Linked DNA regions of Homo sapiens: regions 1, 2 and 3 are each linked to region 4. Evidence: fine-mapped expression QTL. A gene starts in region 4. Each other region holds a variant in brackets. All regions are shown on one strand. Distances are from middle to middle.

Evidence for each region. PIP is the estimated chance that this variant, and not a neighbour inherited with it, causes the effect.
Region 1: its variant is the best candidate, but not a certain one, in a credible set for the expression of HINT3 in whole blood (TOPMed, PIP 0.87).
Region 2: its variant is the best candidate, but not a certain one, in a credible set for the expression of HINT3 in whole blood (TOPMed, PIP 0.71).
Region 3: its variant is the best candidate, but not a certain one, in a credible set for the expression of HINT3 in subcutaneous fat (TwinsUK, PIP 0.74).

The regions. Positions count from the first base shown.
Region 1 is chr6:126,160,668-126,168,899 of GRCh38, reverse strand. It overlaps a transcript of TRMT11 not described here. Among named protein-coding and RNA genes, the nearest start is that of CENPW, 180 kb to the left of the region's middle. The variant C/T (reference allele first, on the strand shown) is at 4,438.
Region 2 is chr6:126,934,508-126,942,739 of GRCh38, reverse strand. The region is part of intron 7 of LOC105377989 (a long non-coding RNA gene); the gene reads left to right. Among named protein-coding and RNA genes, the nearest start is that of RSPO3, 180 kb to the left of the region's middle. The variant T/C (reference allele first, on the strand shown) is at 4,419.
Region 3 is chr6:126,006,478-126,014,709 of GRCh38, reverse strand. It overlaps TRMT11 (tRNA methyltransferase 11), which reads right to left. Exons shown (of 13, transcript NM_001031712.3): 8 at 6,238-6,318; 9 at 3,293-3,457; 10 at 1,858-1,939; 11 at 1,609-1,740. Among named protein-coding and RNA genes, the nearest start is that of TRMT11, 24 kb to the right of the region's middle. The variant G/A (reference allele first, on the strand shown) is at 3,868.
Region 4 is chr6:125,953,443-125,961,674 of GRCh38, reverse strand. It overlaps HINT3 (histidine triad nucleotide binding protein 3), which reads right to left and starts at 4,905. Exons shown (of 5, transcript NM_138571.5): 1 at 4,497-4,905. The coding sequence starts at 4,697. RefSeq lists enhancers at 3,683-3,732, 4,793-4,892 and a silencer at 4,403-4,622.

The sequences.
Region 1 (8,232 bases), 210 kb before region 4:
TGAGACAAGTGGATCCACCACAAGTAGACTCACCCATAAAATAAAGCACAAGTGGTTTGTACTTTTATAACATTTCTTTTCATGGCAGGGCATGGTGGCTCGCACCTGTAATCCCAGCACTTTGGGAGGCCGAGGCTGGCAGATCACAAGGTCAGGAATTTGAGACCAGCCTGGCCAACAGGGTGAAACTCCTTCTCTACTAAAAATATAAAAATTAGCTGGGCGAGGTGGCACACTCCTGTAATCCCAGCTACTTGGGAGGCTGAGGCAGGAGAATCGCTTGAACCCAGGAGGCAGAGGTTGCGGTGAGCCAAGATCGCGCCACTGCACTCCAGCCTGGGTGACAGAGCAAGACTCCTTCTTGGAAAAATAAAATAAGACCTCTTTTCATCCAAGGAGAGGGAAAGTGGCAATTCTAACATAATGGCCAATATGATCAGTAGGATACAGCTGGCAAAAACTTAGCCTCACTTCTAGCATTTATTCCTATAGCTCCATATATTGAGAGCATTTTCTTTCCATTCACCAATGACATGTCATTCATATCATTAACAGAAATAAGTTTAGTTCTTAGATTTTGACTTGAAATCCCCTGGGTAGTCCCTTTTTACTCAGTATCAACGACTGTTGGAGAAACCATAAAGAACTCCCCCTAACACTGGTTCTGACTACACAGCTTTTCTAGGAGGGCTGAGGTTGCCGGTGTAAGAGAAGGAGTTCCACAGCTTCACTGTTCAGCATTAATATTCACTGATAAAAAGAAATGTGTTTCTTAATATGATAACCAGCTCCTAGTCTCCTGAGGCTCCACTGTAGCTGAGTTTCATGAGGCCCACATCAATCTTCCAAAACACATCTGAAGCCATGCAGTTCACATTCCAGCTATAAATGGGAGACACTGACCCAAGTCCAAACAAAAACAAAAATCATCCAAAACCTCCTCTTTCCAACATCACAGGCTTCTGAATAAAATGTTTACATTCTCCCAGGCTGGAGTTCTTCCAGACAGGGCTGGAAACCAAAGTCACAGTGAATATCAGAGGCTGACTGATTACAAATCAGGAAACCTACCCAGAAACATATGTCCGAGGTGGAAAAAGAAGGCTGGTCTGTTGAGCGTATGAAGACTGGGAAATACACATATGTGCTGTATCACTTGCATACATTTGAGAAACTAATGATTATCCATAGGCACAAATACAGACACACACCATATACACACACATAAGAGCATTGCCTTCTCCTCAAAATTCACTGATTCCCATACTTTATTTTTTAGATAAGCTGAACACACAATAGCAAATTAATGTTTTAAGAACCATAACAGATGGCTGGCAAGATGGCTAGGAAGAGCTCTGGTCTGCAGCTCCCAGTGAGATCAAAGAAGAAGGCAGGTGATTTCTGCATTTCCAATTGAGGTACCCACTTCGTCTCATTGGGACTGGTTAGACAGTGGGTGCAGCCCATGGAGGGTGAGCAGAAGCAGGGTGAGGCATCACCTCACCTGGGAAGTGCAAGGGGTCAGAGAACTTCCTCCCCTAGCCAAGGGAAGCTGTTAGGGACTGTGCCATGAGGAACAGTGCTATCTGGCCCAGACACTATGCTTTTCCCATGGTTTTCGCAACCCACAGACCAGGAGATTCCCTCGGGTGCCTACACCACCAGGGCCCTGGGTTTCAAGCACAAAACTGGGCAGCCATTTGGGCAGACACCGAGCTAGCTGCAGGAGTTTTTTTCATACCCCAGTGGTGTATGGAATGCCAGCGAGACAGAACCATTCACTCCCCTGGAAAGGGGGCTGAAGTCAGGGAGCCAAGAGGTCTTGCTCAGTGGATCCCACCCCCAATGAAGCCTGACAGGCTAAGATGCACTGGCTTGAAATTCTTGCTGCCAGCACAGCACTCTGAAGTCAACCTGGGACACTTGAGCTTGGTGGGGGGTGGGACACTGGTCATTATTGAGGCTTGAGTAGGCAGTTTTCTCCTCACACTGTAAACAAAGCCTCCAGGAAGTTCGAACTGGGTGCAGAACCCACCGCAGCACCATGAAGCCACTGTAGCTACACTGCCTCTCTAGATTCCTCCTCTCTGGGCAGGCCATCTCTGAAAGAAAGGCAGCAGCCCCAGTCAGGGGCTTATAGATAAAACTCCCATCTCCCTGGGACAGAGCACCTGGGGGAAGGGGCAGCTCTGGGTGCAGCTTCAGCAGAATTAAATGCTCCTGCCTGCTGGCTCTGAAGAGAGCAGTGGATCTCCCAGCATAGCGCTCGAGCTCTGCTAAGGGACAGACTGCCTCCTCAAGTGGGTCCTTGACCCCCGTGCATCCTGTCTGGGAGACACCTTATACAGGAGAGCTCCGGCTGGCATCTGGTGGGTGCCCCTCTGGGACGAAGCTTCCAGAGGAAGGAACAGGCAGCAATCTTTGTTGTTCTGCAGCCTCCGCTGGTGATACCCAGACAAACAGGGTCTGGAGTGGAACTCCAGCAAACTCCAGCAGACCTGTAGAAGAGGGCCCTGACTATTAGAAGGAAAAAAAACAGAAAGGAATAGCATCAACATCAGCAAAAAGGATGCCCATGCAAAAACCCCATCCAAAGACCTCCAACACCAAAGACCAAAGGTAGATAAAGCCATGAAGATGAATTAAAAATAGAGCAAAAAGGCTGAAAATTCCAAAAACCCAATGGAAGGAAGCTAAGAACCTTGATAAAAGGTTACAGGAACTGCTAATTAGAATAACCAGTTTAGAGAAGAAAATAAATGACCTGATGGAGCTGAAAAACACAGCACAAGAACTTCATGAAGCTTACACAAGTATGAATAGCCAAATCGATCAAGCGGAAGAAAGGATATCAAAGACTGAAGGTGAACTTAATGAAATAAAGCATGAAGACAAGATTAGAGAAAAAAGAATTAAAAGGAATGAACAAAGCCTCCAAGAAATATGGGACTATGTGAAAAGACCAAACCTACATTTGATTGATGTACCTCAAAATGACAGGGAGAAAGGAACCAACTTGGAAAACACACTTCAGGATATTATCCAGGAGAACTTCTCCAACCTAGCAAGACAGGCCAATATACAAATTCAGGAAATACAGAGAATACCACAAAGATACTCCCTGAGAAGAGCAACCCCAAGACACATAATCATCAGATTCACCAAGGTTGAAATGAAGGAGCAAATGTTAAGGGCAGCCAGAGAGAAAGGTTGGGTTACCCACAAAGGGAAGCCCATCAGACTAACAGCAGATCTCTCTGCAGAAACCCTAGAAGCCAGAAGAGAGTGGGGACCAATATTCAACATTCTTAAAGAAAAGAATTTTCAACCCAGAATTTCATATCCACCCAAACTAAGCTTCATAAGCAAAGGAGAAATAAAATCCTTTAAAGACAAGCAAATGCTGAGGGATTTTTGTCACAAGCCGGCCTGCCTTACAAGAACTCCTGAAGGAAGCACTAAATATGGAAAGGAAAAACCATTATCAGCCACTGCAAAAACATACTGAAATGTAAAGACCATCAACACTATGAAAATACTGCATCAACTAATGGGCAAAATAACCAGCTAGCATCATAATGACAGGATCAAATTCACACATAGCAATTTTTTTTTTTTTTTTGAGGCACGGTCTCACTCTATCACTGGGCTGGAGTACAGTGGCACCCATCTCGGCTCAGTGCAACCTCCGTCTCCCAGGTTCAAGTGATTCTCCTGCCTCAGCCTCCTGAGTAGCTGGGATTATAGGCACCCACCACTACGCCCAGCTAATTTTCTTTATTTTTAGTAGAGACGGGGTTTCACCATGTTGGCCAGACTGGTCTTGAACTCCTGACCTTGTGATTCGCCCACCTAAGCCTCCCAAAGTGCTGGGATTACAGGCGTGAGCCACTGCACCCAGCCAACGATATTAAATTTACATGTAAATGGACTAAGTGCCCCAGTTAAAAGACACAGACTAGCACATTGGATAAAGAGTCAAGACCCATCAGTGTGCTGTATTCAGGAGACACATCTCATGTGCAAAGACACACATAGGCTCAAAATAAAGGGATGGAGGAAGACTTACCAAGGAAATGGAACGCAAAAAAAAGCAGGGGTTGCAATCCTAGTCTCTGATAAAACAGACTTTAAACCAACAAAGATTAAAAGAAAAATACAAAGAAGAACATTACAGAATGATAAAGGGATCAATGCAACAAGAAGAACTAACTATCCTAAATATATATGCACCCAATACAGAAGCACCCAGATTCATAAAGCAAGTTCTTAGAGACCTACAAAAGACTTCAACTCGCATACAATAATAGTGGGAGAATTTAACACTCCACTGTCAATATTAGACAGATCAATGAGACAGAAAATTAAAAAGGATATTCAGGACTTGAGCTCAGCTCTGGATCAAGTGGACCTAATACACATCTACAAAACTCTCCA[C/T]CTCAAATCAGCAGAATATACATTCTTCTCAGCACCACATAGCACTTATTCTAAAACTGACCACATAATTGGAAGTAAAACACTCCTTAGCAACTGCAAAAGAACAGAAATCATAACAAACAGTTACTCAGACCACAGTGCAATCAAATTAGAACTCAGGATTAAGAAACTCACTCAACACAGGTGCAACTACATGGAAACTGAACAACCTGCTCCTGAATGACTACTGCATAAATAACAAAACGAAGGCAGAAATAAATAAGTTATTTGAAACCAATGAGAACAAAGACACAACATGCCAGAATCTCTGGGATGCAGCTAAAGCAGTGTTTAGAGGGAAATTTATAGCACTAAATGCCCACAGGAGAAAGTGAGAAAGATCTAAAAGCAACACCCTAACATCACAATTAAAATAACTAGAGAAGCAAGAGCAAACAAATTCAAAAGCTAGCAGAAGACAAGAAATAACTAATATCAGAGCAGAACTGAAGGAGACAGCAACATGAAAAACCCTTCGAAAAATCAATGAATCCAGGAGCAGGCTTTTTGAAAAGATTAACAAAATAGGTAGACTGCTAGCCAGACTAATAAAACAGAAAAGAGAGAAGAATCAAATAGACAGAATAAAAAATGATAAAGGGAATATCACCACTGATCCCACAGAAATACAAACTACCATCAGAGAATACTATAAACACCTCTATGCATAGAAGTGAATAGACCAATAACAATTTCTGAAATTGAGGGAGTAATTAATAACCTACCAACCAAAAAAAGCCCAGGACCAGACCGATTCACAGCCGAATTCTACCAGAGGTACAAAGAGGAGCTGGTACCATTCCTTACGAAACTATTCCAAACAATAGAAAAGAGGGACTCCTCCCTAAATCATTTTATGAGGCCAGCATCATCCTGATACCAAAACCTGGCAGAGACACAACAAAAAGAGAAAATTTCAGGCCGATATCCCTGAGGAACATTGATACAAAAATCCTCAGTAAAATACTGTCAAACCAAATCCAGCAGCACATTAAAAAGCTTATCCACCATGATCAAGTCGGCTTCATCCCTGGGATGCAAGGCTGGTTCAACATATGCAAATCAGTAATCCATCACATAAACAGAACTAATGACAAAAACCACATGATTATCTCAATAGATGCAGAAAAGGCCTTCGATAAAATTCAACACCCCTTCACGCTAAAAACTCTCAATAAACAAGGTATTGATGGAAAGTATCTCAAAATAATAAGAGCTATTTATGAAAAACCCACAGCCAATGTCATACTGAATGGGCAAAAACTGGAAGCATTCCTTTTGAAAACCAGCACAAGGCAAGGATGCCCTCTCTCACCACTCCTACTCAACCTAGTATTGGAAGTTCTGGTCAGGGCAAACAGGCAAGAGAACAAAATAAAGGGTATTCAAATAGGAAGAGAGGAAGTAAAATTGTCTCTGTTTGCAGATAACATGATTGTATATTCAGAAAACCCCATCATCTCAGCCCAAAATCTCCTTAAGCTGATAAGCAATTTCAGCAAAGTCTCAGGATACAAAATCAATGTGCAAAAACCACAAGCATTCCTATACACAAATAATATACAGAGAGCCAAATCATGAGTGAACTCCTATTCACAATTGCTACAAAGAGAATGAAATACCTAGGAATCCAACTTACAAGGGATGTGAAGGACCTCTTCAAGGAATACTACAAACCACTGCTCAAGGAAATAAGAGAGGACACAAATAAATGGAAAAACATTCCATGCTCATGGATAGGAAGAATCAATATCATAAAAATGGCCATGCTGCCTGAAGTAATTTATAGATTCAATGCTAGTCCCATCAAGCTACCATTGACTTTCTTCACCGAATTACAAAAAACTTCTTTAAATTTTATATGGAACCAAAAAAGAGGCTGCATAGCCAAGACAATCCTAAGCAAAAAGAACAAAGCTTGAGGCATCACACTAGCTGACTTCAAACTATACTACAAGGCTACAGTAACCAAAACAGAATGGTACTGGTAACAAAACAGATATATAGACCAATGGAACAGAACAGAGGCCTCGAAAATAACACCACACATCTACAACCATCTGATCTTTGACAAACTTGACAAAAACAAGAAATGGGGAAAGAATTCCCTGTTTAATAAATGGTGTTGGGAAATCTGGCTTTGCCATATGCAGAAAACTGAAACTGGACCCTTTACTTACACCTTATACAAAAATTAACTCAAGATGGATTAAAGGCTTAAACTTAAGACCTAAAACCATAAAAAACCTAGAAGAAAACCTAGGCAATACCATTCAGGACATAGGCATGGGCAAAGACTTCATGACTAAAACACCAAAAGCAACGGCAACAAAAGCCAAAATTGATAAATAGGATCTAATTAAACTAAAGAGCTTCTGCACAGCAAAAGAAACTATCATCAAAGTGAATAGGCAACCCACAGAATGGGAGAAAATTTTTGCAATCTATCCATCTGAGAAAGGGCTAATATCCAGATGGATATCCACTTTTGATATCCATCAAAAAGTGGGTGAAGGATATTAACAGGCACTTCTCAAAAGAAGACATTTATGCAGCCAACAAACATATGAAAAAAAAGCTCATCATCACTGTTCATTAGAGAAATGCAAATCAAAACCACAAATGAGATACTATCTCACCCCAGTTAGAATGGCGATCATTAAAAAGTCAAGAAACAACAGATGCTGGAGAGAATGTGGAGAAATAGGAATGCTTTTACACTGTTGGTGGGAGTGTAAATAATAGTTCAACCATTGTGGAAGACAGAGTGGCAATTCCTCAAGGATCTAGAACTAGAAATACCATTTGACCCAGCCATCCCATTACTGGGTATATACCCAAAGGATTATAAATCATTCTAATATAAAGACACATGCACACATATGTTTATTGCAGCACTATTCACAATAGCAAAGACTTGAAACCAACCCAAATGCCCATCAATAATAGACTGGATAAAGAAAATGTGGCACATATATACCATGGAATATTATGCAGCTATAATAAAGAATGAGTTCATGTCCTTTGCAGGGACGTGGATGAAGCTGGAAACTGTCTTTCTCAGAAAACTATCATAGGAACAGAAAACCAAACACCACATGTTCTCACTTATAAGTGGGAGTTGAACAATGAGAACATATGGGCACAGGGAGGGGAACATCATATGCCAGGGCCTGTAGGGGGGTTGGGGGACAAGGGGAGGGTTAGCATTAGGAGAAATACCTGATGTAGATGACAGGTTGATGGGTGCAGCAAACCACCATGGCACATGTATACCTATGTAACAAACCTGCACATTCTGCACATGTATCCCAGAACTTAAAGTATAATAAAATATTTAAAAATAATAATAATAAAAAGAACCATAATACCAGATGTACCAGGTGGTGGCTGCCAATGTGTGCCACAGATTAAGTTTTGACCTTTTGACTCACCCCGATTTGTACTTCGATTTCTAAACTTTCTGTACTTTTATTTCTAAACTTTCTGTACTTTTATTTCTTTCTTCTTGCTTGAAGAAAATTGTCTAAATAGGAGTTTTCTGACAGGCTCCTGTCAACCAATCATTTGTTAGCTTCACCTAAAAGAAGATTATTGTTTGGAGATGGAGATGAAGTTCTAATTATCATTAGTCTTTAACACGTTTTATAGCTCTCAGTAAAAGCATATGAGGTCAGAGTGTCTGCTGTTTTCAGTTTGGGATTAAACAGGTCTCGTCATGTCTGTGAGGGTGGTAAGCAGGAGGGTCAAGAGAAA
Region 2 (8,232 bases), 980 kb before region 4:
AAGCATATCATGATGTAGGTACCAAATAAGCTACTGCATTTGTAATTTTATTGAATAACAAAATCCATATTTCAATAACCAGTGTTCATGATTCGAAGTTGATGCTACACACTTTCTTAGCTCAGCCAGCCTTCATGTTTCACATTTTATAATTACTAAAATTAATGAATAAAAATCATTGGTTAATGGTTTCTTAAAAATAAAACTTAAAACTCTGGCATTTCTGATTCCAGATTTTTTCTTTCTTCATGGTCACAAAACCATGCCCTAGGACATGCTTAATATATTGTTCAGCTTCTGGACAGGGGTGAAGATCTTTCCCCTAAGTATTGAAAAACTTGTAACTTTAAATGACTGCGCAGGGGTACAGAATTATGCCTGAGGGATTCCATATAGTTTTAAGGAAGACTACTGAGGTAGCCTTAAAAATAATAGCTAAATTATATTTAGTGTTTCTTATGTACCAGGGACTGTTCTAAATTATCTTTAAATTCTCTCAAAATTCTAAGAAATAGGTACCAGTGTTATCCCCATTTTACAGATGGGGAAATTGAGGCAAGGAGAAGTAATTTGCCCAGTGTCGTATAAGAATGGCAAAGTCAGGAAAAGTATTGGAACACAGTCTTTGCTCCAACCACTGTGTGTGCTGCTTCACTATGCTGCATGACAAACTTTTTGTAGTCAGAAAAACTTTTTACCCCAAGACATTTCATTAGTTAAACAAATGGCCAAAGTTAGATCTCAGAATCTGGGAGTCTTTATTCTCTGGAGTAACTTTCAGCATCCCAGTATCATCTATTGGCAAGCAACCAGCATTTTACACAATCTTCCAGGAGACTCTGAATATTAAAACATGAAGCTTTGCATTTGGTAAAATTTTAAATGTCTAATTTCTTCCTCTCTTGGAGTGAATCACAGGTTGATAGACTACTGATATTCCGAGGTACTTTTTCATCAATTTTATTGCAATTAAGGAGTCCATGGTAAAGTGTTCAGATTCAGAAAATATCTTTAAATCAAATATCATTCGTATGGGAAATATTCGTAGGCACACATCTTTAATTTTGATAAAAAAGATGTAGGCTTCAGTGGGGTGCAGTGGGAATGAACCAGGGTAATCCATAAAGACTCCATGCTTGATACCCTAAAAGTAGCCATCCTTTCAGTGAGGAGAAGCAACTCCCCCTAACTTCTTACTTTATTCTCCCTCTCAACTTCATCTGGCTGTTAATCTCACCCTACTCCTGGTCTTTAATCTTGTTCTAGCATGGGGGTGGAAAAAGTAATCTTTGTTAGTAGAAAGTCCCAAAACCCCACAACAACAGGAGTTCTGTGGACAATGTGAGGAACTGGGAATTCTTGGAAAGATGGGGAAAAAATAGGACGTTTTTAGGATGAATAAGATGCAACCATTTACATGGTTTCAAGTTAGTGGATGAGGAGACAAAAATTTTTTTAAGCTAAAAAAGCAGATTAGTTAAAAATGGATGTAAAAAGAAAAAATGAACAGAACGATCATGAGAAAAAAAGAGGAGAAATATTGCAGGAGGACGATTAAATATAAAAACTATGGAAAAATGAGAGAAGAGGATTAAAGTACAACACAAAAGATTCAAAAGAGGAAAGATTTTCAGTCATAGGCATCTAGTGTTTCAAAGTTGATTTCTGCATGTGCAGGAGAGCTAGATGACTGAGGACTGTACGGTATGTAAGACACCCTCTGTTAGAAAGATTCTCATCCTCTTAAGTTGGCCACAGAAACAGAATTAATGGGCTTGCTGCACCTCTGAGACACCTTTTGTCTCATTCATATTTGCACAAAAGCTAGAAAAAATATATTGGCAAGGACTTCTTAGAGCTTCGTGCTTACTGTGGGTTTGTGCAGGTTAAGAAGGCTGTCTCTGGGGTCTCGCACAGAAACCTGGATGAAAGCAGCTACTGGGAATTTGGCCAAGAGCAAGGTTTATAAGGTTCCAGTGTAGGACATGGGATCTATGCTATTCTACTTGATTAGTGCAATCAGGGAGGTTACCAAGAAAGTTTGCATTTATAGATCTCTGTTGGTGTCATTTGACACTATTTTATTGGGGTTCTTATTTGAGTGTTTTTATCTGTGATGAGGTATAAAGTATGTATTTCATATATGAATTTTCATCTAGGTAAGTTCATCCTTATATAAGCAAAGCCAGCTAACCCAGAACATTTTTCTTGTCCTTGGCTAGTTTATGATACTATTTGTGTTAGTTATCTCATTCTAACTATAGACTGGGTGGGTTAAACAACAGAAATGAATTTCTTAATAGTTGTGATGGCTGGAAGTCTGAGATCAGGGTGCCAGCATGGTCAAGGGCTGGTAAGGACTCTCTTCCTGGCTTATGGATGACTGCCATCTCTCTCTGGTGTCTCTTCTTTTAAAAGCATTAATTCCATCATGAGGGCCCCCTTATGACCGCAGCTAAACCTAATTACTTCCCAAAGGCTCCATCTCCAAAAGCCATCATAGTGGCAGTTAGGGCTTCACCATGTGAATTTGGAGGAACACAATTTCAGTCCATAGCTCTACTCTTAGGAGTGTCATCTCCCTCCCTGCCCTATCATGTCCATAAAACTTACTGAATGAAGGTGCGGTAGTTATTCACTATTATATTATTTGGAATGGTAGGACTACAGACAGACTCGAGAACAATGTTTTCTTTAAACCAAGAAATATTTATAGAGTCAAAAAGTGTAAGCTCTTCCCTTGAAGAGTGAGTTCTGCCATGTCAGCAAGAGTCCAAGCAGTATATGCCTTCCAATGTATCTCAAAACATTTTTTTTCTTTTTATTCTGTGCTAGCAACAATGGTTTACACAGAACTTTGTATTTTGTCGCATTTTATTTGGAGCATTACAATGCAACATCATTGATAAATCTCTGAGGATAGTTGACCTTTGAGGTCATTGATGGGCATATTCTATGAGTCAATAAATTAATAGAATACCAGGCCAGGCATGGTGGCTCACGCTTGTAATCCTAGCACTTTGGGAGGCTAAGGCGGCAAGATCACAAGGTCGGGAGATTGAGACCATCCTGGCCAAAATGGTGAAACCCCGTCTCTACTAAAAATACAAAAAAATTAGCTGGGCACGGTGGCACACGCCTGTAGTCCCAGCTGCTCAGGAGGAGGCTGAGGTAGGAGAATCGCTTGAACTCGGGAGGCGGAGGTTGCAGTGAGCCAAGATTGCACTACTGCACTTCAGCTTGGTGACAGAGCAAGACTCCATCTCAAAAAAAAAAAAAAATTAATAGAATATCTGTTATAATGAGCTTGGTATTATGAAGTATGAATAATATTTTCCTCAATACTATTACTGCAATTAATAGTTCTAATTTTGCTATTGTACACTAGAGCAGTCTTATTCACTAAACTGCTTTTTGAAACTTTTTACCATATTATAGGCATGGATGGCAAACACAACACTTACATGTGATAACATACCATTCTATAGTTTAAAGAATAATGCTACATATCTTATAGGTAATTGAGACCTATCAATTAAATTCAATAGTTGCTCATTATTCACTTGGCTTTACTTTACAATCCTGGTTGAATATCTGTTAATATTTTTCTCTATATATATTGAAAATGATATATATACTTACATGCAGATACATAATACATATATGCATATATATGAATATATGTGTGCATGTTTATACATATATATACAAAACACCCACATATATGTATCTACATATATGCACATATGTGTAAATGTATGTGTGTATATATACATGAACATATATACATATATGCATAAATACACACATACCTGTACCTATTGTATTAGTCCATTTTCACACTGCTATAAAGAACTACTTGAGACTAAGTTGTTAATGAAGAAAAGAGGTTTAATTGACTTGCAGTTATGCAGGCTTAACAGAAAGTATGGCTGGGAGGCCTCAGGAAACTTTCAGTCATGGTGGCAGGTGAAGGGGAAGCAAGGACCTTCTTCACAGGTTGGCAGGATAGAGAAGCTGAGCGGGGAAGTGCCACACATTTTTAAACCATCAGATCTCGTGAGAACTCATTCACTATCACAATAACAGCATAGGGGAAATCTGCCCCCACGATCCAGTCACCTCCCACCAGGCCCTTTCTCCAATTCGACATGAGATTTGGGCAAGGACACAAATCCAAACTATTGTCACCTATCTCTAGTGTTTTAAAACTAAAAATAACATTGTTTATTGCATATTTCAGGGCACTAGTGACAGTTAAGATGGAAAAGTTAAATATGAATGCTTATCTTTTCTCTGTTCTTCTTCCACTGGTACAATATTAATGCTGTGAACTTAGTTTGTCCAACATCTAACACATTTCCTGAGAGCAATTAAAGAGCCACAAGGGAGTAATTAAAGAGCCACAAGGGATACAG[T/C]GTACTTAGAGAAATGGGGTTGGGCAGAAACTGAAGGATAAGCGTTGCACGTACTGTTCACTCTTCCTGGAATACTTTAGTGTATCTGGAATATTCTATATCTTCTCCCCTTTCAGTCAGAATTAATTGCTATCTTTTCTGTTCTCTGGGGCCTTATAAATTGTGAATTATTGAATTCATTTTATTTTTTAAAATACGAATTCTCTGATTTTAGTATGTAAATTTCTTTATTACCTATTAAATAAGAGTTGTTAATTGTGTCATTTAAAGCCTCTGCATTTTTATTTTTTGTATACTGTTGATTTATTATGGGCATATTATTCTCAAATTATAATACTATATTTTTTCATATATTTCTATGAGTTTGTCAACATATAGCTATGCTGTCATAGGCATAAAAGTTAATTTGTTTGTCTGCTATATACTATCTCATTGTAAATAGCATATAGCTTAATTTTAAAAACTAGATCAGCTCTGTATTTTAATGTATCACTTTAACACTTTAACATGCTTTTTTGGTGATTAAATATCACCTTTATCATCTCCCTATGTTAAAATCATTGGAATTTTTATTCCAGAATTTGATTCCTAATTGATTTCTTTAAGCTACAGTTCAGCAAGTATTTAAAATGGCTTTCTTGGTTTCTTGACTCACCACTTTTTCTGCTAGCCTGCTTCTTCCTACTCCTTGGGCTCTTTTTCTCCTGTGTTATACTTGAGTAATTTTCTCAGAGAACTATGGTTGGCAAACTTTCTGACTCATTACACATTTCTAAATGTTGCTATTTTGAATTTCAATGTAGTTAAGTATTTTAGGTTCAAAAACAGTTGTTTTTTTCTTAATGATAACATTAAAGATATAGCACCATTATCTTCTACCTCTCAGTATTGCAAAGGAGATAATTTCTTGTTCATCTGATTTGTGGGTTGCTTCTTGTAGTTAACTAATTCTTTTCCCTCCTAAATCTTGTAGGATTTTCTTTTCATCTTTGAATTTCTAAAACTTCAGTATGGTGGCCTAGGTGTTTATTTTTATTCGTCTTTCTTGGCACTCTAAGACCTTTCAGCTGTGCAATTAGATCCAAAATTTTCTTCTTTAGTTTTCATGATTTCTTTGTCATTTCTCCCATTCCATTCTCTTTGCTCTTTTTAGAACTCCTATTAAATTGATGTTGGAATTTCTTTTCTTTGTCTATTGACCTTTCTCTTATCCTCTCCACTTCTTTGCTCTTTAGTGTTATGTTCTGGGAGATGTCCGTGGTTCCATTCTCCAGCTCACAGATTTAGCATCTGGCTGCACCCATTCTCTATTTAATCAATTTATAGAGGGTTTTGTTTTTGTTTTTCCATTTCAACTACCTTAGTTTGTATTTCCACAATCTTTATTTGATATCTTATCGATACAGAATTCTATACTAAAAGTTTATTTTCTTTATTGTATCTCTTTTTCATTATTGTTTTCTTTTTTTTGTTATTTGTGTGAAGTCTCTTTGTTTTGGTTTTCATCAAATTATTAGTAATTTTGTTGTTTTATTAATATTTTTTGAGTACTCTGCCCACCTCAGTATGGGTTCTAGTTATATTTAATCATAAACTGCTTTTGTGATTTTGGGTGAAAGATAAAAATATTTCAGATTTTGTAGACAGCTTTCAGACCTCTTTCCTGTTTTTCATGAGCTACTGCAGATTCGTTATCTAAATATAAATATATTTTTTATTTCATGGCATTTTAGACAGAAGAGCAGTTGGACATACATGTTCCTTCTTCCATATTGCTCCAATCCTCTTTTCATAATTGGAAATTGTTACAATAAAGTTTATTTTATTCCTTCTCTTACTGTATTCATAGATAGATATCAATATAGAAATTGTTAGAGAGACAGATACAATTTTTCTTTGATTTCATGGTATTTTAGGCATAAGAATAGGTGGAAATGTATGTTTCTTTCTGCCATATCGATCCAATCTTCTCTTATATTTTTAAATGGTTAAAATAATGATTATCATGTTCCTTCTTGTCTGGATTACAAGCTCTTAAAAGTGTAGATGACATCTTATTCTTCTGTGCATTTTGTACATGTCTTGCCCATGATGTCTGTTTGGTAAGCTTTTGCTGAACTGAAGGGAGGTAAACAGAATGTTAAAGAAAAAAGTTTCCTAAGCACCAGAAACTTTGTTTATTAACTCCAGGCTAGGCATGAATCACCAAAGGGTCAGAAAGAAGAATTATGAAGTGTTAACATTTAATAAATAGTACAATGGTGAAATCAATCAAATACTCACTTGAATCAATCATTTTCTGTGATTTTTAAAATGTGTAAATAGGCAACTTGATCAACTGAAGTAATCACGTATTTTAATTCAAGGGTAGAATTTTTCATACTTGAATCAGATTATCTTAATATCTTTAATTTTCCTCACAGGTCCTTCTCACTAAAAGAAAATGTAAGTCACTAAAATTATGTCTCAGTTTATAATCATTTGAACTCTTTCCACTAGATCCAATCATGAATAATTTCCTCCATGGGTGAAAGAAGAAAAAAATCAAAACAAAACCTCTGTTCTCTTCTCTTTAAATCTTCTAGTTTGATTTATTGCTATACCAATCTGAATGAATTTTAGATAATTACAGGAACAATGGGAGTGACTCAACATTTACATGGAAAATTTCTTCTGAAATATAATGATAAATAAAAAGAAAGTCTCCTTTTAATTAATACCTACTCTGGGATGTCCCTCCTATATAGTAAAGTTATTTAAACTCAGAAAAGTTTACCTAACAAACATAAGGATGACTAGTATCAAAATAAAGAGAAGAAAATAGTAAGTGTTTGCAAAGAAGTGAAGAAGTTGGAGCCTTTGTGTACATGTGTTGCTGGTGGGAATGTAGAATGGTGCAGCCATTGTGGAAAATAGTACAGCGATTCCTCAGAAACTGAAAATAAAGTTACTAACACAATCCAACAATTCCACTTCTGTGTAAATGCCCCAAATAATTAAAAACAGGGACTCAAACTGATATTTATACACCCATGTTCATCACAGCATTATTTACAATAGCCAATAAGTGTTCATGGATAAACAAAATGTGGTATACACATAGAATGGAATGTTACTCAGCTTTAAAAAGTAAGAATATTGTGACACATGCTACAACATACGTGAACATTGAGAATATTTGGCTAAGTGAAATAAGCCTGTCACAAAAAGACAAATACCATGTAATTCCACTCAAGGATTGCTTGAGCCCAGGAGTTCAAGGCCAGCCAGGGAGGCATGGTGAAAAGCCTGTCTCTATAAAAAATAAAATAAATAAAATAGCCAGGTGTGGTGAAGCACACCTGTGGTCCCAGCTACTAAGGAGATTGAAGTGGGAGAATTGCTTGGGCCTAGGAGGTCGTGGCTGCAGTAAGAAGCCAAATTCATAGACAAAAAGTAGAAGTGTAATTGATAGAAGCTGAGGAGATGAGGGAATGGGAAGTTGTTGCTCAAAAGATGTGGAATTTCAGTTGGAGAAGATGAAAAAGTTCTGGATATTGATAGTGGTGATGGTTGCAGAACAAGTTATGTATTGAATGCCACAGATCTGTATGCTTAAAAATGTTGATATGGTAAATTCTATGTAATGTATATTTTGCCACAAAGGTTCAGGACATGACTTTAATCTGTGATGGTTACAGAACAAGGTATGTATTGAGTGTCACAGATCTATACACTTAAAAATTGTTAAAATGGTAAGTTCTGTGTAATGTATATTTTGCCACAATTAAAAACAAGGACCAGGAGGGTTAAATAATGTTCTTAAGTTCTTTCA
Region 3 (8,232 bases), 53 kb before region 4:
ACGAAATGCATAACTAGAGTTAGGCCATGGTAATTTTAAATACAGCATTTGTAAAACAAACAACAAGAAATAGCTGAGGGTCCCAAAGCCTGAGGGACTACCAATCTTTGTAGAAAAAGACAGTTACCACTGTATAATTATGTATAATAAATATAGGAATTGGCCGGACACGGTGGCTCACGCCTATAATCCCAACACTTTGGGAGGCTGAGGTGGGTGGATCATGAGGTCAGGAGTTCAAGACCAGCCTGGCCAACACAGTGAAACCTCGTCTCTATTAAAAATACAAAACTTAGCGGGCCGTGGTGGCGTGCACCTGTAATCCCAGCTACTCGGAAGGCTGAGGTGGGAGTATCGCTTGAACCCAGGAGGTGGAGGTTTCAGTGAGCTGAGATGGTGCCACTGTACTCCAGTCTGGGTGACAAAGTGAAACCCTGTCTCAAAAAATAAATAAAATAAAATAAAATACAAATACAAATATAGGAATTAAAATAATTGTATTAAAAATATATCTATGTCAGATTGAAGAAATAACCTACTGAGCTTGGCAATACCTTTCAAATTTAAACATTCCATCTTGTTCAAACGTCTTGTCTTTTACTGTTAATATATATAGCTTTATATTTAATAGTTACTGAATAACAAAACTCAAAGCAATAATGCTGAACATAATCAGGGCTTTAAATATATGCACAGCTCTTATTTTGGTCTTAGCTTTTGATTTATTGTACTTAAGATAATCATAATAGCCAATATATATTAAAGCTAGCATTAGAAGGTAGCAGAAGCGTGAATCCTTTAGCTAAGCTGTTGAAAATTACATCTATAGACTGGCAAAAGAGCTATAAAACAGCTGTGATCCATAGGTACTAAGCTAAGTGTAGGGTACAATAAGGGCTGGCAAAACTTTTTCTATAAAGGGCCAGAGAGTAAATATTTTAGATTTTGTGGGTCACATACTGTATGTTTCTGTCACACATTATTTTGTGTGGATATTTTTTAACAACACTTCAAAAATCTAAAAACTAGTCCTAGCTCAAGAACCTTATAAACACAGGCTGAGGACCATATCTGGCCCATAGGCCGTGGTTTGCCAACCCCTGATATAAAATAACAAGGTCAAAACAATTCAGTTGATGAAAAGAAGGAGGCTGAGTACAGTGGCTCACTCTTATAATCACAACACTTCAGGAGGCTGAGGCAGGTAGACTGCTTGAGCCTAGAAGTTTAAAACCAACCTGGGCAACATAGTGAGACTCCACCTCTACAAAAAATAAAAATAAAAAATAGCTGAGCATGGTGACGCATGCCTGTAGTCCCAGCTACTCAGGAGGTTGAGGTGGGAGGATCACTTGAGCCTGGGAGGTCAACGCTGCAGTGAGTCACGATTGCACTACTGCACTCCAGCCTGGGTGACAGAGCAAGACCTTGTCTCAAAAAACTAAATAAATAAAAAGACTATTTTATACACATTTGAAGGCAAACAAAGGCTATTACAAATTAAATATAAAGATGCACCAAATGCAAGAAGAGATAAAGAGAAAATTATACTAGATACGCAAACATTGTAAGAAAAATGAAATTAAAAATAAAATTAAGATTACATACTCTGGCGTATACACCGGTAACCAATAGACTAGTCTTCCACCTAAAACGAGGGTCTCAGCTGCGAAGTTTAACAGGTCAAGAAACATATCACTCAGATGATAACTCAAGGAAACAGGAACATGGCTTTCTGGACTACACAAAGAAAAGAAAATTTCAAAATCAGTGAAAAATTTTAAGAGTGCTAAGTTAACGGGGAAGCCACATGCCTCTTCTCAAGGTAGTAACACATCATATTTAAATTTCACTTACCATTTTTCCCATTTTTCTATCCCCTTTGGTATCTCCTTCTGTGAACCTGTTCTTCTTGTAGATTCTCTGATACCATATGGAGCTAGACAGAAAACAAAGGTAACACAGATAGTCAAAAGTCACCAAATCATGGATCAAGGGCAAACAGCCATGCTGCCTTCAAATGTGACACCCTGAGAAGAACACAACATCACCAATGCACAAATCCAACTGAAAATGTACAACATAAAGACTTGGGAGAGGAGCAACTGTCTTCTTAAAATATGTCAATGTCATAAAAGTCATTGAGAAAAGCTGTGGAAGTGTTACAAATTAAAGGAGGCCTAAAAGATATCATTACGAAATGCAATACCTGACTCTAGAGTAGATCCTGTCCTAGAGGGAGAATATATGCCATAAAAGCTATTACTGAGTCAGTTGACAAAACTGAATGGCAAACTGTAGATGAAAGTATTTTATCAATTTACTGAACTTGATAACTGTATTTTTGCTAAGAGACTATCTTTATTCTTAGTAAATACACACTGAAGTATAGGAGTAAAAGGCCACAATGTATACCACTTACTCTCAAGTTGATCGGAAAAAAAAAATGTATTTTATATAAGTAAACACAGAGTGGGAGAGCAAATAATAAAGCAAACTGTTAATTTAAAAAAAACTAAATTTTCATAAAGTATATTCACACTGAAACCATAAGGCCTTGATAATTTTTCTTTTGTTACATTACATTTGACAAAATCTAAGTTAGTAAAGAACTAAAGAGAGCTGAGATAGAAGGGCTGAACTTTGCCACTTTTTACAGATTTACTGTCAAATACTATAGAAAAGGCAGATCTATTCTTAGATAGGCTGCCTAAAAAACTCACGACCTCATGAGGCATGGGAAAATAAATTTTCATGCACATTCCTGAAGCTCAGTAGGTTCACAGGCCCAGTGGTTCCACAGAACCCCAAATTTCTTGTAATGCTAGAAAGGAGATGCCAGTGAAAACAGGCACTACAAAAACACAAATGCTTACACATAGAGAAATGTGTGATATCTGAAACTCTGTTCAAAATTTGACACCATAATTGCAAATGACATGTGAGCTCCAGTTGGTATAATAACCAATTATAGTCAATACAAAAACAAATACTAAATATATGCCTCAAAAAAATAAGCTGAAGGGAAAAACGGGTGACAAGTTAATATAAAAGGATATAACAGGGGATGGCAAGCCAATATATTTGTTTAAAAAAACAAAACAGTAAGCCCTTAACAAGGTAGTTAAGTACCTTCATAACTTTCTCCTTACAAGATGAAGAAGCTGGGGGTAGATGGGAGAAATACTGACAAGTTGGCATTTTGTGCATGTGTTGGTAAATTTTGTACTTTAAATGTAAATGATTTTACAAAACGAATCCTACTCCTACTTTTGTATAAAAATAAACTTACGATCAGTAATGATTGCATCAAAATATGTGCCCTTCCTCCAGGAAGGTTTAGATGCATCTGAAACCAGGACATCAAGGTAATACTTCTCTAAACCATATTGACGAAGATTGGCCCTAATGTTTTCATCTGGTCCTCTCCACTTCTGGTTTTTCCTAGTAGCCTTTCCTGAAGGGAAAGAAAAAGGAAGAGAGAAAGTATTAAACAGAGTATTCTTATTTTCTGTCATTTAGGAAAAGTAATGTTTTAACTCACTGAAACCTACATTTATTCAAAATTTGCTTTCATTTAAAATCTTAATTTTATGTATACAAGTAAATAGTTATTTTAATTTCAACATAACAGTAAAATGTACTGATGTCTAACTTATCTTGTTCTGTCAACTTCCAAGTAAAACTGCCTTAAAACACTCATTCGATATTTTCAAGTACGAAGATTTTTGTAGTAAGATAGAGTTGAAGAGAATATGGTTCCTTTCTTCCAGCAGTAAACAGTCCTGTGTAGAGATAGTATGAATCAGATAAATGAAACAGAAATGAAGAGAGCGAACTTGGGAAATGCCGCAGTTGTGACCATGA[G/A]GAAGGGAGGCAAAATGGAGACATTGCTAATGAAAGTTAAAGTGGGAGTGGAAGGAAGGCTAAAGAAGCTCGTAAGTTCCTTGTTTAGGAGACATGATAGTTTAGGATGATGACACCAGTGATTAATATCAGAGAAACCAGGAAGAAAAACAAGCTTAAGAAAAAAGATTAGATTCATTTAAGATATATCAATCTTGATGTACCTTGAGGTACCTGCAGAACTTTCAGAAAAAGATACGCAGTGGGGACATTCAGCAGGTAGTTGAAGGCCAGAATATACAGACTTTGGAGTTATCAGCATATAATCTTATACTGACTCCATAAGGCTGAATAACATTCTTTTTGTTCACTTAGGAGGCAGTTACATGTTTGCTCTATAATTATTCTTATAAAATCAAAAGAAGAACGACATGACTCTGAAAAACATGCAGTGTGACGGAGAAGTGCTCAAAGATAGGTAGACGCCTGGAAAAAAACAATATATAAACATAAATCAAAGAAAATTGCAGGGCATCAAGTAGACTGAGAAGAAACAAAAAAGTAAAAGTACCACCTGCCAAGACCACTGTCAAGGAAACCAAGAGCAGCTGTATGAAGGTCAACACTGTCAAATGCTATAAATCTGTGGCCTTTGTTAGCGTTTTCAACAGAATGATAGGCACAGAAGCTGGAAAATAATGGCCAGAAGAGAGTGAAAGATGAAGAAGAGGAGACAAGAAGTTATACTAGTTTTTCAAGAAGCATTTTGGCAAATGGAAAAGGAAAACAAAGTGGTAGCTAGAGAACCTCTACAGATTTGCCAAAAAAAAAAGTTTTGTACTTTTAAAACAGGAGAAACTTGAGAATATTTTAGGATAAAGTAAGAGTTCAGAACCACAGGAAACAGAGGGTATACCTAACAGTATCTTGGATAAGCTCTAAGGGAACTACCTCAATCAGAATTCTACCCCAGTAGACTGAAGGTTACAACATAAGTTTCCAAACATAACTTTAATAAATAAAAATTCAAGTAAATTATATAAGACAATTTCCTTAAAAGAAATATACTGCTTCTACTAAAAGCAAATTGGAATAATTCTTAGTACTTTTTAAAACAGATTTCAGATAAAGAATATCTTTTTCTTGCTAGCCCATTTATATACACCTAATAAATTATAACTCATTTTCCTAATAAATGTTACTAAATTCTTTACAGTCAAGGTAGGGAAAAAGACAGGTCACCAGTACAAGATATCAAATTACTTCCACAAAAGAAAATAAAGTATAATAAATGCTCACCAATACAATAACTTATACTGGGTGAGGAAAAGGAAAAGAGTATTATAAGGGCTGATCCCAGTTATTATAATGAATACCAACATAAACACAAATAATCTCAAAATCATCAATAAAATGACATTTTCAATACCATTAAGCTATAAGGAAATACTTTTTCAGTTTGATTCAATTCCATCCAATCACACATCATTATTGAAGCTTCTAGAGTTTAAAATATTTTCCATAATTACCTGAAAAGTAAAGCAGATGACTGTTTCAAGTACTCTCAGTTCAAGGCAGAATCTTTAAAGTTACTTTAAAGAGGTTTTGGTCAGTTATAAAATTAGAAACATAAATAGTACCTCAAAGACTAGTTATTAATCCAGTATATAGTCAATGTATGATTAGTGAATAATTTTGGTGATAATCTTTAAATGAGTGGTGATAATCTTAACCAAATATGTTTCATTATCATGTATATTTATTAATTAGTTATAATTAATAAATTATAGGTCTGAACTGGTCACTGGGTTATCACTTTCCTGCACTTCCTTAAAGCCCTCTGAGAGCAGGACTTTTTCTCATTCACCTTCATGTTCCCCCAGGAAATCACTCTGTACACAATGGATCATAAAAGTAGATACCCAATGAAGTCTTATAAAAACAAGTAAAATTATATCACAATTTTGTATTTGAAGATTAAAATAATGCCATATAAAACTACAGTTGACCCTTGAGCAACATGGGGTTGGGGTGCCCACTCCTCACACAGTCAAAAATATGCATATAACTTTTGACTCCCCCAGAACTTAACTACTAACAGCCTACTGTTATACTTACTTTATTCAGTAAAAATAGATTTACTATTCATGAAGTGGAAGTGGATCATCATAAAGGTCTTCATCCTCATCACCTTCATGTTGAGCAGGCTGAGGAGGAAGAGGAAGTGGAGGGATTGGCCTTGATGTTTCAAGAGGGCAGAGATGGAAATAAATCTGAGTATAAGTGGACCTGTGCAATTCAAACTTGTGTTCTTCCAGGGTCAACTGTATGTTTAAAGGTACATTTGGCACCACAGCAATGACTATAATACTGTCTATAATCTCTACTCACCCAAGCCATGAACTGTGTTGTAGTCTATGTCTGTCCCATACACATATGCACCAAAATGAGCACATGCTATCAGCAGGCCACCTGAAAAATCACACAATTTTGACCTGTTAACCAGTAAGTCCCAAACTCCTGTTTGTTCCTATTTAACTTCATCCAGTCTTAGAAACTAGCTGCAGGCAGAGTATCCTGGAATGACATTGGTCGTAACATATTTAGTAAGCCTCAGGACTGAAAAAACAAACCCCTAAGCTATAGTCACTAAACTGGTAACAAAGTAGAGAAATTAATGTATACCCTGGCATCATTATTTTAAACAGCACTATTTTATCTTTTTTTTGGTCAAAATAATGTATATTTAGACATTTTCATCTTATTTTTAGAGCTCTACACAAAAACATTTTGCTCCTTTCTTAAAAATGAGCATATAAGGCTGTTTATACAAAGAGCTGGCAATAAACAGAATAAATTCTGATGACTAGGCTCAATTCCCACTGAAGTCAGAGTTTCAAACAAATAGGGCATAATTACTATGTGAGACATTAGTTCTTACAGAAATTAAAAGGTTAGGACATATTTTAATTTTTGTAAGAATTAACTATTTTAATATAGTTACTCCTGTAACCAATCAAGTAATTATCTCCTGTTTTAAACTGTAAATACAAATTTCTGAGTAACTATTATCAAACATGCACAAAATAATTAATAAACTGTTTTTATTAGTGCTGTGACCAAAGTAAGAACAACTGTCCCAATACAATCTGACCAGACAAAGTAATGTGACAGATGTGACCAGCTCATGCATGAAGAGAAATCTTAATAAAGGTTAAAATAATAATGAAACTCTTTAAAATGAAAGGTAATACTATTTTTAAATTAAGAAAAAATTGTACACAATTAACTGAACTTTTAATAATTGTACTTTTAATTAAATTCACTTTTTTTAATCATTCAAATTAAAATGCTTTTAGTGCTTGGGCAAGTCTTAATTAGCTATACTCTAGGAAGGCCTGCTAGTCAAGCTGAAATCATAAATATATTCTTCAACTACAAAATATGCACAGACTTGGACAAGGGGAAAAAATACTGGGGCTCTTTCCCTTATAACCTTTTGAGATGTAATCTCTGTAACTAAGATGGGTAGTGCCTCTGGAGGGTCAAGATCCATAAATTAATGATGTTCCTTCCATAGCCATTTAAAACATAGTCTGGTAGCATGGAATTAAAAATACTTTGTTCATGAAAATATTATAACTGACTAGTTCTTTTTAGAACCCATGAAGAAGAGAAATGAAAGACTAAAAGTACAGCAGAAACCAAAACCTATGTCCTCTCATACTAACTACAAAAAGCATTTATGTGAGAGGGAAGGTTAAAAAGTCCTCATAATTCTGACTCTGGAAATGGAACATTCCATATTTAGAAAAAGCAGCATAAGTGATGACTTGGAATACTCACAAAGTCACTTCACCCAAATTACAAGGAATTACTACAATTCTGCCAATTAAGGCAGATACTCACCTAGAAGAACTAGTTGTCAAGGGGAACAGAAAAGCTTTCCTGTGCTTCCTTAACAGAACCTTATCCATTTGGTTAGAGTGAGTTTTGAGAAGACCCAATTTACAAGTACACTGCTGAAAGGAGATGAATAATCTGTTAGACTGCACCTGATACTTAACTTCGTGCCCTTTAAGCTTTTATTTTTTTTTAAATAAAATCATAATAAATTAGCTTATCTGAACTGGTCACTGGGTAATCATTGGTAGTCATCTAGTTGTTCTTTTGATTAAATTGAAGCACTTTTTACATTTAGCTATACCTCAGTTGGAGTTTTTTAGGGGATCTTTTTGGTGGAAGAAGGGGTGCTAAAAAAAAAAGGAGAGTGAAGTGTCAAGGAGGCAAGTAACATGACTCACCCATTTCTTTTTGCGTTACCAAAAGTAAAAATACTGCATATGTGATCTATGCTAGCAACTCGGTGTTTCAATTTCTCATTAC
Region 4 (8,232 bases):
GACATGGAAGCTCTGCCCCCTTTTCCCCATACTTTGGGCTATTCATCTCTTCAGCAGCATCCTTTGGTATATCCTCTATAATAAACCAGTAAACCTAAGTGTTTCCCTGAGTTCTGTAAGCCACTCTAGCAAGCTTTAGAACCCAAAGAGAAGCTTGTGGGATCCCCAACTTCAAGCTGGTCGGTCAGAAGTTCCAGAGGCCTGGACTTGCAACTAGTGGGAAGGGCAGGCCAGTCTTGGGGACTGAGTCTTCAACCTGCGGGATCTGATGCTATCATCAGGTAGATAGTATAAGAATTGAAATGGAGGACAACCAGCTGGTGTCTGCTGCAAAACTGATTGTTTGCTTGGTGTGTGGGGGAAAACCTCCATACATTTGGTCACAGAAGTGTTCTGTGTTGATTGCTGTTGTTGAATGGGAAAACAAAAAAAGCACAGTTTGTGTTTTTCCACTGACAATGGGCTATTGTATATATTCCCCGTTTCCCTAATTTAGGGTGTAAATTAGTTGAAAGTACTGATCATGTCTTATTTCTACCATGAAAATATCCCCAGTCTCTTCATATTGTTTACTTTGTTCCTAACCAAGAAAAATTCTCACCTTGGATGTGATAGAAGTCTGGATCCCACCCCTTTTGATGACTATTTTCAGACAAAGCTTTCTACTGCTACTAGTATCTATTTTCTATTAGTTTCATTATTGGAACTGCAGAATACAAAATTTAAAAGCAGTTTCTAAGGATCTACTAAATATTGAACTCTGAGTTTAAAAATGCACTTTACCTCTCTTTAGCCTACTTTTATATTTAGTAAAATAAAGGGAGACTGAAGAGGCAGAACTAGGTCCCTTCTGACTCTATGGGTCAGTCCAACAAAGGTCTGCAAACAGAAAACTGATGTGCGTATTCTTTCTCCCTGTCAGGTGCTGTCTTTACTTCCTTCTCCTATTCAGCATATATTCCATGGTCTACCACTTCAGCCACTTGCTTGCCCTAACTTCTTTTTTTTTCCCCCCCCCCAGAGAGAGTCTTGCTCTGTCACCCAGGCTGGAGTGCAGCGGCGCGATCTTGGCTCACTGCAACCTCCACCTCCTGGATTCAAGCAGTTCTCCTCCCTCTGCCTCCCAAGTAGCTGGGATTACAGGTGCCTGCCACCACACCCAGCTAATTTTTGTATTTTTAGGAGAGATGGGGTTTCACCATATTGGCCAGGCTGGTCTCGAACTCCTGACCTCGTGATCCGCCTGCCTCAGCCTCCCAAAGTGCTGGGATTACAGGCGTTTGCCACTGCGCCCGGCTCCATAACTTCTTAACTGTGTCTCACTACACTTCTATAACAACCACATGGCAAAATCCCAACCCTGGGTCAATACAACTGCCTACCTTGTGTAATCTCAGCCTTTGGCTGCTGCTGGAAAGTGGGAAGAAAATCACACAACTAAGCAGACTGGTATGACCTGAAATTGAATGTCCTCAACCTCACGTGACCCGCTGTACAACAATCCTTGTTTCCCTAATTCTCTCTCCTAGCCTTCACAGGAGCTACTTCAAACCTTTTACTTGTAAATAACCATATAACCATATAATTGCTCCTTCTCCTTTTTCAAGGCTTAACCCAAATGTCACCTGCTTAGTGCAGATTTTCCTGACTAAAATTTTAAAACTGCATCCCCTTCCTCTTTATTTTCTGCCATCTAATAAACTATAAATTTTACTTATTGTTTTGCTTATTATCCTTTTCTGCAACGACAATGTGAGCTCCACAAGGGCAAGGAGTTTTGCATGTTTTGTTTACGGCTGTATCCCCATGCCTCCAACAGTGCCTGGCACACAGAGAGTGAGGAATGAGTTTCCTCTTTCCCAGGGTCAACATTCTACCCGCCGGGCCATTTTAAACCTCTCTCTATAGGCATCTTCCCACTGGGATTTGAACACACAAAAGGTTTCACTGTTTTAAAAGCTTTCTCTTAATCCCCAACTTCTCCTGTAGCTACCACTACCTTTCCCTCCTCCCCTGGATTGCCAAATTCCTGTGAGAGTTGTCTGTATTTGCTGTCTTCACTCCTTCCTTTCCCAAGTTCTTCTCAATCAACTGCTATCTGCCTTTTGCTTCACCACTTCATGAAATTGCTCTCCTCAAGGTCAATGAACATCACTTTGGGGACACAACCAGTCCTGCTCTGACTCTGCAAGGACATACAAGGGTCATCTAACCCAGATTTGAGGATGAAGGCAGGCTAATATTGCTGCTGACATTGCTGGCAATTCCTTTCTTTTTGACATACTCCCTTCTCTTAGCCTTTCCAGCGTTCCTTCTATTTCTCTGTTCCTTCTCTATTCCCTTTCCAGGTCCTCTTCCTCTGTCTGTCCCTTATGATGTTAGTGTTCTTCAGAGTTCTGTGTAGGCCTCCCCTTCACTTTTTACCTCATGGGTGATCTCATCGCTTCCCTTCTTTTTCAGTTTCCATCTATAAACCGACAGTTCCTGTAATCTGGGTTAGAGATACAGATCCCTCTACAGAGTGCTAGACTATCCAACCATTTAAAAGACATCTCTACTTAGATGCCTCAAACTCACCTCAAACTCCACAACTCCATAGCTCAACTCATCGCTTTGCTACCTCCCACCACTCCCCTGGCCATCTTTTCTCCTCCTGTGTTCCCGAGCTTAATGAAATGGTACCACCACTACTAGTTTACCCTAGCCAGAAACCTGGAAATCATCTTTGACTTCACCCTCTTTCATTTCCTTATCCTCTTATATCTAAATCAGGGTTTCTAAACCTTGGCACTTCTGACATTTTGAGGGCTGGATAAGCCTGTTTTATGTGTGTGTGTTGATGGGGTGGTGGGGGTGCTGTCCTGTGCACTGTACCATGTTAATAGCAACCCTGGCTTTTATCCATTATTTAGGTCCCAGAAGCAACCCCTAGAAGTGCCAGAAGTTGTTACAATCAAAAGTATCTCAATACATTGCAAAATGTACCCTGGGAGGGCAAAATTGCCCCCAGTTGAGAATCACTGACCTGTATCCATCAAGTCCTCCCTGTTTTACCTCCTGAATACTGTATCCCTTAAATTGATATACTTTTCATAATCTCCTCTACCACATTCTCATTTCAGGCCATCATCAGGGTAGATTAATCTACTAGCCTTCTAACGGGTCTCCATACCTCCAGACTGGTCTCCTCCAAATCATTCTCCACAATGATGCCAGAATGACCTTTCAAAGATCAACCCCCTTCCTATAACTCCGCAACATCTTCCTCCCAACCCACCATTAAACATTGTGAAGTTTCACTTTGCTCTTCAGATAAAGACAAATTCCTTCACATGACTTCCAACACACTTAATAATCTGGTCCCTTGTTTACCTCTCCAGCCTCGCCTTTCATCCTCTCAAACTCTATGCACTAGTTAGACAATTTCTGTTAGTTTTTCTATCACACAAACTGAACCTCTCGGGGGGTCTCTCAACCTGGGACATTATTCTCTCCATTTCCTCATCTGATCAACTCCTACTTATTTCTTCATGTCTCATTTCCTCTGGAAAGCCTTCCCTAATTCTTCAGAGCTGGGTTAGATGCTCCTCCCACAAGCTTACAAAATACTGTAAAATCACCTGACCACAGCACGAGGCATTGTAACTGGCTACCTCCTCTGTATACATTCCGCCCTTTAGATTGTAAAATCGGGACACAGACTGTCCCTTATCTTGCTCAAAAACCTCCAAAACAAGGTGCTTAGAAGGAATTATATTTATTTTTTAAAAAATAAAGGAATGTTTACTACAAAAGACACAATCTTTGGAGCTAATTCTCTCAAAAAGTTGTTTCTATATGGACAAGTAAAACCAACAGAATAAAGTGTGTGCCAGATTATCCGTTTAAAAATATCTGGGCAAAGTCTTCATGCTCTGAAAATGTCCACGCATCCCAACTGACAGTGGAATTCAGAGGCAATTCAATAATAGTTTGACCTCAGACCCACTCCCTCCAGCCTATTTTCTGCCAATCTAACAAACAGCTTTCCACAATTATCATTACCTATTTTCTACTAGTTTTCTCATCAGTATCGGTATTAGAGTGTGCAGGATTTAAAATCAGTATCTTGAAGGTGGAGAAGAATCCTTGTAATAAAAGCAGAGGCCACAAAATGTTATTTGTACCAACTACCTGGGTACCTGCAAACATAGGCCAAAGCATTCGGCCCTGTCATTCACTCTTTGCCCCTGGGAACAGCAAAGATACCGCTGGAGCCACTGCCTGTCAGTCCCCTAGGAGTGAGTCTGTCATCAGCACCCGGACCCTGCAGAAAGGCCCGTAGTGGGCGTATCCCCAGCTTCCCCGAGCCCCATCCACACAGAGCGGCCCTGCCTCTGCGAGCTGAGTAGCGATCGGGATCCTCTGCACCCGCTCCACAACGGCGAGGCCTCCCTGCCGGAGCTCCGAGGGGCGGCCAGGTCCTCACCCACCCCCGGCCGCGCGTCGCCGCCCACCTCGCAGTGCAGGAGTTCGGTGCCCGGGTCCTGCCGCCCCGCGATCCGGCAGAACACGCAGGTGCTGTCGTAGTCCTTGGGCTCTGGTGACTTGCCAGCGGCTTCACAGGTCCCCACTGAGGAAACCGTAGTTTCTGCAGTCGCCGAGGCCTCACAGTCGGGGGCCAGGCCGGCGCTGCGGTTCACCTGTTCCTCCGCCATTGCACCCGCCCCTCGCGGCCTAGAGCCTCGGCCTCTCCAGGGCTACCGGGCCCGCGCAGTCTCCGCGTCCCGCACCTCCTCCGTTTTACCTCGAGACGTCGCCCCTCGCCTGACGCTGGGCGGTGATCCAGGCTTTGGGGAGAGGGAAGGAGACGCGGTGAGGAACTTCAAAGCCGGAGGCCGGCCTCAAAACCGGCTGCCACTAGAGGGCGCGCAATGGCGCTGCCGAGAGTCGTCCTGACCCCTGCGCCTCGTTGGTAATGACGCACGACGTCTGCCAAGTCGCAGAGCGCCCAGCGCGTCGTGGTGACATCACAGAGGCGCGGGAGCGTTTGACATAATGGAGCTTGTTGGGTGTTCTGGACAGGCGTTCTTCAAAGCCCATAGTATAGCGTGTCCAAATATTGTATTACGCTGCCGTTTTTTTAAAAAAAAAAACAAAAAGTTTTTTAAAGTTTGATTTTTAAAATTCGTAGGTTTTTAAAGAATGAGCAAAATTCCTAAAGCCTTGTTTTCAACAGACATCATGTTTGCTGCTTTTTCAGCCACGATAATTGTAGGAGTTTAAACTCAAAATGTCCAAAACTGACCTTTACATCTCTGTTGACTTTTTATTGTTGTTAACAGCACAGTTAGATCAAACTAGCGACCTTTTTTTTAATCTCACATTCCTCATATACAAGTAGATGTGGAGTCCTATAGTCAATACTCTGAAATATCCCAGAAATTCAATGCCAGTGCCTCATAATGCCTCACCTAGACCAACGCAATCACCTTCTAACTTACTTATTGATTTTCCTGTCACTCAGACAAAACCTTCTGTAACTATGTGCTCAAAGAAAAAGTACCAGTTCCTTAGCTTGGTGTTCAAGGTGGACTCTGATTTGACCTCAGCTTTTCGTTTTGTGATACTTCCCACTTGCTGAGCATCTAAAACATGCCATATATTTCTCTAATTGTCAAAAAACGCAAGGTTGGTTTTATAACCACCGCTCTAGAGATGAAGGACCAAACTCAGAGTTGCCCAGTCCCACACAACTAATTAATAGTGACAGAGTTTAAGATCAAGGTTTGTCTAACTCCAAAACCCACCAACCTTTTTGACATACAGCACTCCTTTTTTAACACCAAAAAATTTGTTGGACTAGCTCACTATAGTAGTTACACCCTTGGTATTTGCTGATTTAGAAAATACATAACAAATTGGGAATTCAGTAATGATTTTTAATGGATTTATGTTGTAATAAAAAGTGGTTGTATGTGTTTTGAATTGTTGTACATATACATTCAAGACATTTTTCATTCCTTTTTGTAGTTGGCCCGTAGTTTGGGGAACCACTACAATAGCTTCACTGCCTTTCAGCACCCCAAAGCAGAGTTCAGAATCAATACATTAGAGTTTTGCCAAATTTTAGTATTCACAATTTCCATGCCTGTACTACACCTTCACATCACTGCTTTTATTCACACAGTTCTCTCTCAAATATTCTTGTTTCCATCTCTTCACTCCAAATTCTACCTTCCAAGCCACCCCTCCAATGCTACCTCCTTCATGAAATTTTCTTTAGCCAAACTGACATAAGCACATCCTCTTGCAAATTCATATAACAGGTTTTCAATATTTCTCTTGTAGGATTTGTCTCTTTGTATCTTATAGCTATTTATGTACTTATTTATCCTGCTAGGAATTATGTTTCTTGGCAACAAGATTGGGTGTGTGAATCTTCCATAATGCCTAGTACAGTTGGAACAGGAATTAAAGAATATGTAAGCAAAAACTCAGTTGTATGTAAGAAAACCCAGTTCCCCCTGAGGAGGAGAAAGAGGTAGAGTCCTTTAAAAATTAACTGCCTGTTTTTCTATCTGTGGCTAGTGAGCCTTATCTCTCCCTTTCCCAGGCATTGTGAAGACCCTGTTTCTCTAGCTGTGCAGCTGCAAAGTCACTAGACAGATAAACTCAAGTCATAAAATATGTTTTTCCTTGAAAAGTAAGAAATTATGTAATGCATATCTCAATTAAATAACTGTCATTTTTCTTACTTCTGTAATATGCTTCCCCCTGCACAGATCTCCCCCCAACTGCCCCCTGCCCACGAAATGCTTAAAAGGTAACCTGACCCTTTGTTCGGGGCTCAGCGGATGTTAATCTGACTGTGCCGGTGCACCTAAATAATAAATCCTCCTCAACCCCTCGGTCTTTCTGATTCCTAAATAATCCTGCAACACAGTGCTTTGCATGGAGGTAGACATTTAACAATTTTCTAATGAAGAATGGTTAGGAGCAAGGTCACAGCATGAGAGTGTTCAGGTTTCACAGTGTGCAAGGATACTACAGATAAGAGTGTGCTGATTCATATCATACACATGTATTAACTTATGGAAAAGCACATACAGAACTGGAGATTCCAGGCTAAGTTCTGGAGCGGTGGAAAGCTGATTTGTATATAAACCCCCATTGGGTGCATATGGCCACACACATACAGTTAGGAGACCATTCACTTACACACTAGCACACACACCAGCATAAGTTGCATCTGTTCTGACTGCACTCCTAGTGACACCTGAGATTTCTTCTCTCACTTACCTGGGACTTTCCAAGGCTTGCTTCTCATTCCTCAGCTTTGAACTTGATAATTTTCCCACTTTGGAAGTGAGGGGAGCAACATGAAGTACTTGAAAATTGTGTAGACGATGTGTCCTGTGTGGAAGCAGGCAAAAATACAGGCACTTGTATGTACATAGGCAGGACTACTGCCAGTGGGTGTTCTGGATAACCCTCCTGGGGAACAGCCATTCCAGTTCCATAACAATATACTAACTTAAAATCTGCTTGTGAAATCAGGTGCTATTGGCTAACTTCACAGGGCTACCATATGGGCTAGCAGGAGCCCTGCTTCAGAGCAGGCTCTGGAGTCAGACTACTCTACAACTTACCATCTGCAAAAACTTGGGCTATGTTATTTTCCTTTCTCTGCTGAGACACAAATTATTTATCTTCCTGTGCGGAGGTTTTCTGTTCATTCATCTATAAAATGGGGATAATAATGATGCCTAATGCGTGATCATGTTGCATGTAGAGTTGTCACCGATGCTTCAGGTGGTGCTTCACCAGCTGGAAACCCCTGTGGCCAGCAGCCCCTCTGCTTGAGTTTTGCTCATGCCCACTGGGCTTGTTCCACCCACTCGGACCAGCAGGCTGCGCTCAGCTCACACAACCAGCCTTGGATCCCACACCTGCCAAAGGCAAGCCAGGTGCAGAGCAGCGAGGGGTGTGTGTGCAAGCACGCTGTTTGGCCACTGCACACAGCCAGGCATGCTGGCTGCTGCGGAGGGGCAGGCAGCTCCAGGCACCCGCACAGGTGCTGACTCTGTATGAGGTTGCGGCTGGACCAGACGTACCGCAAGCGGCTTCCACTGCGGGCACCAGCATCTGGATGAGGGAAATGTGGTGATGCTGGAAAGCTCAGAGATGCCAGGAACCACAAAGCCCCAAAGAGGGTGTTACAGTATGTCACAGCCCTGGCTCAGGGAGCTC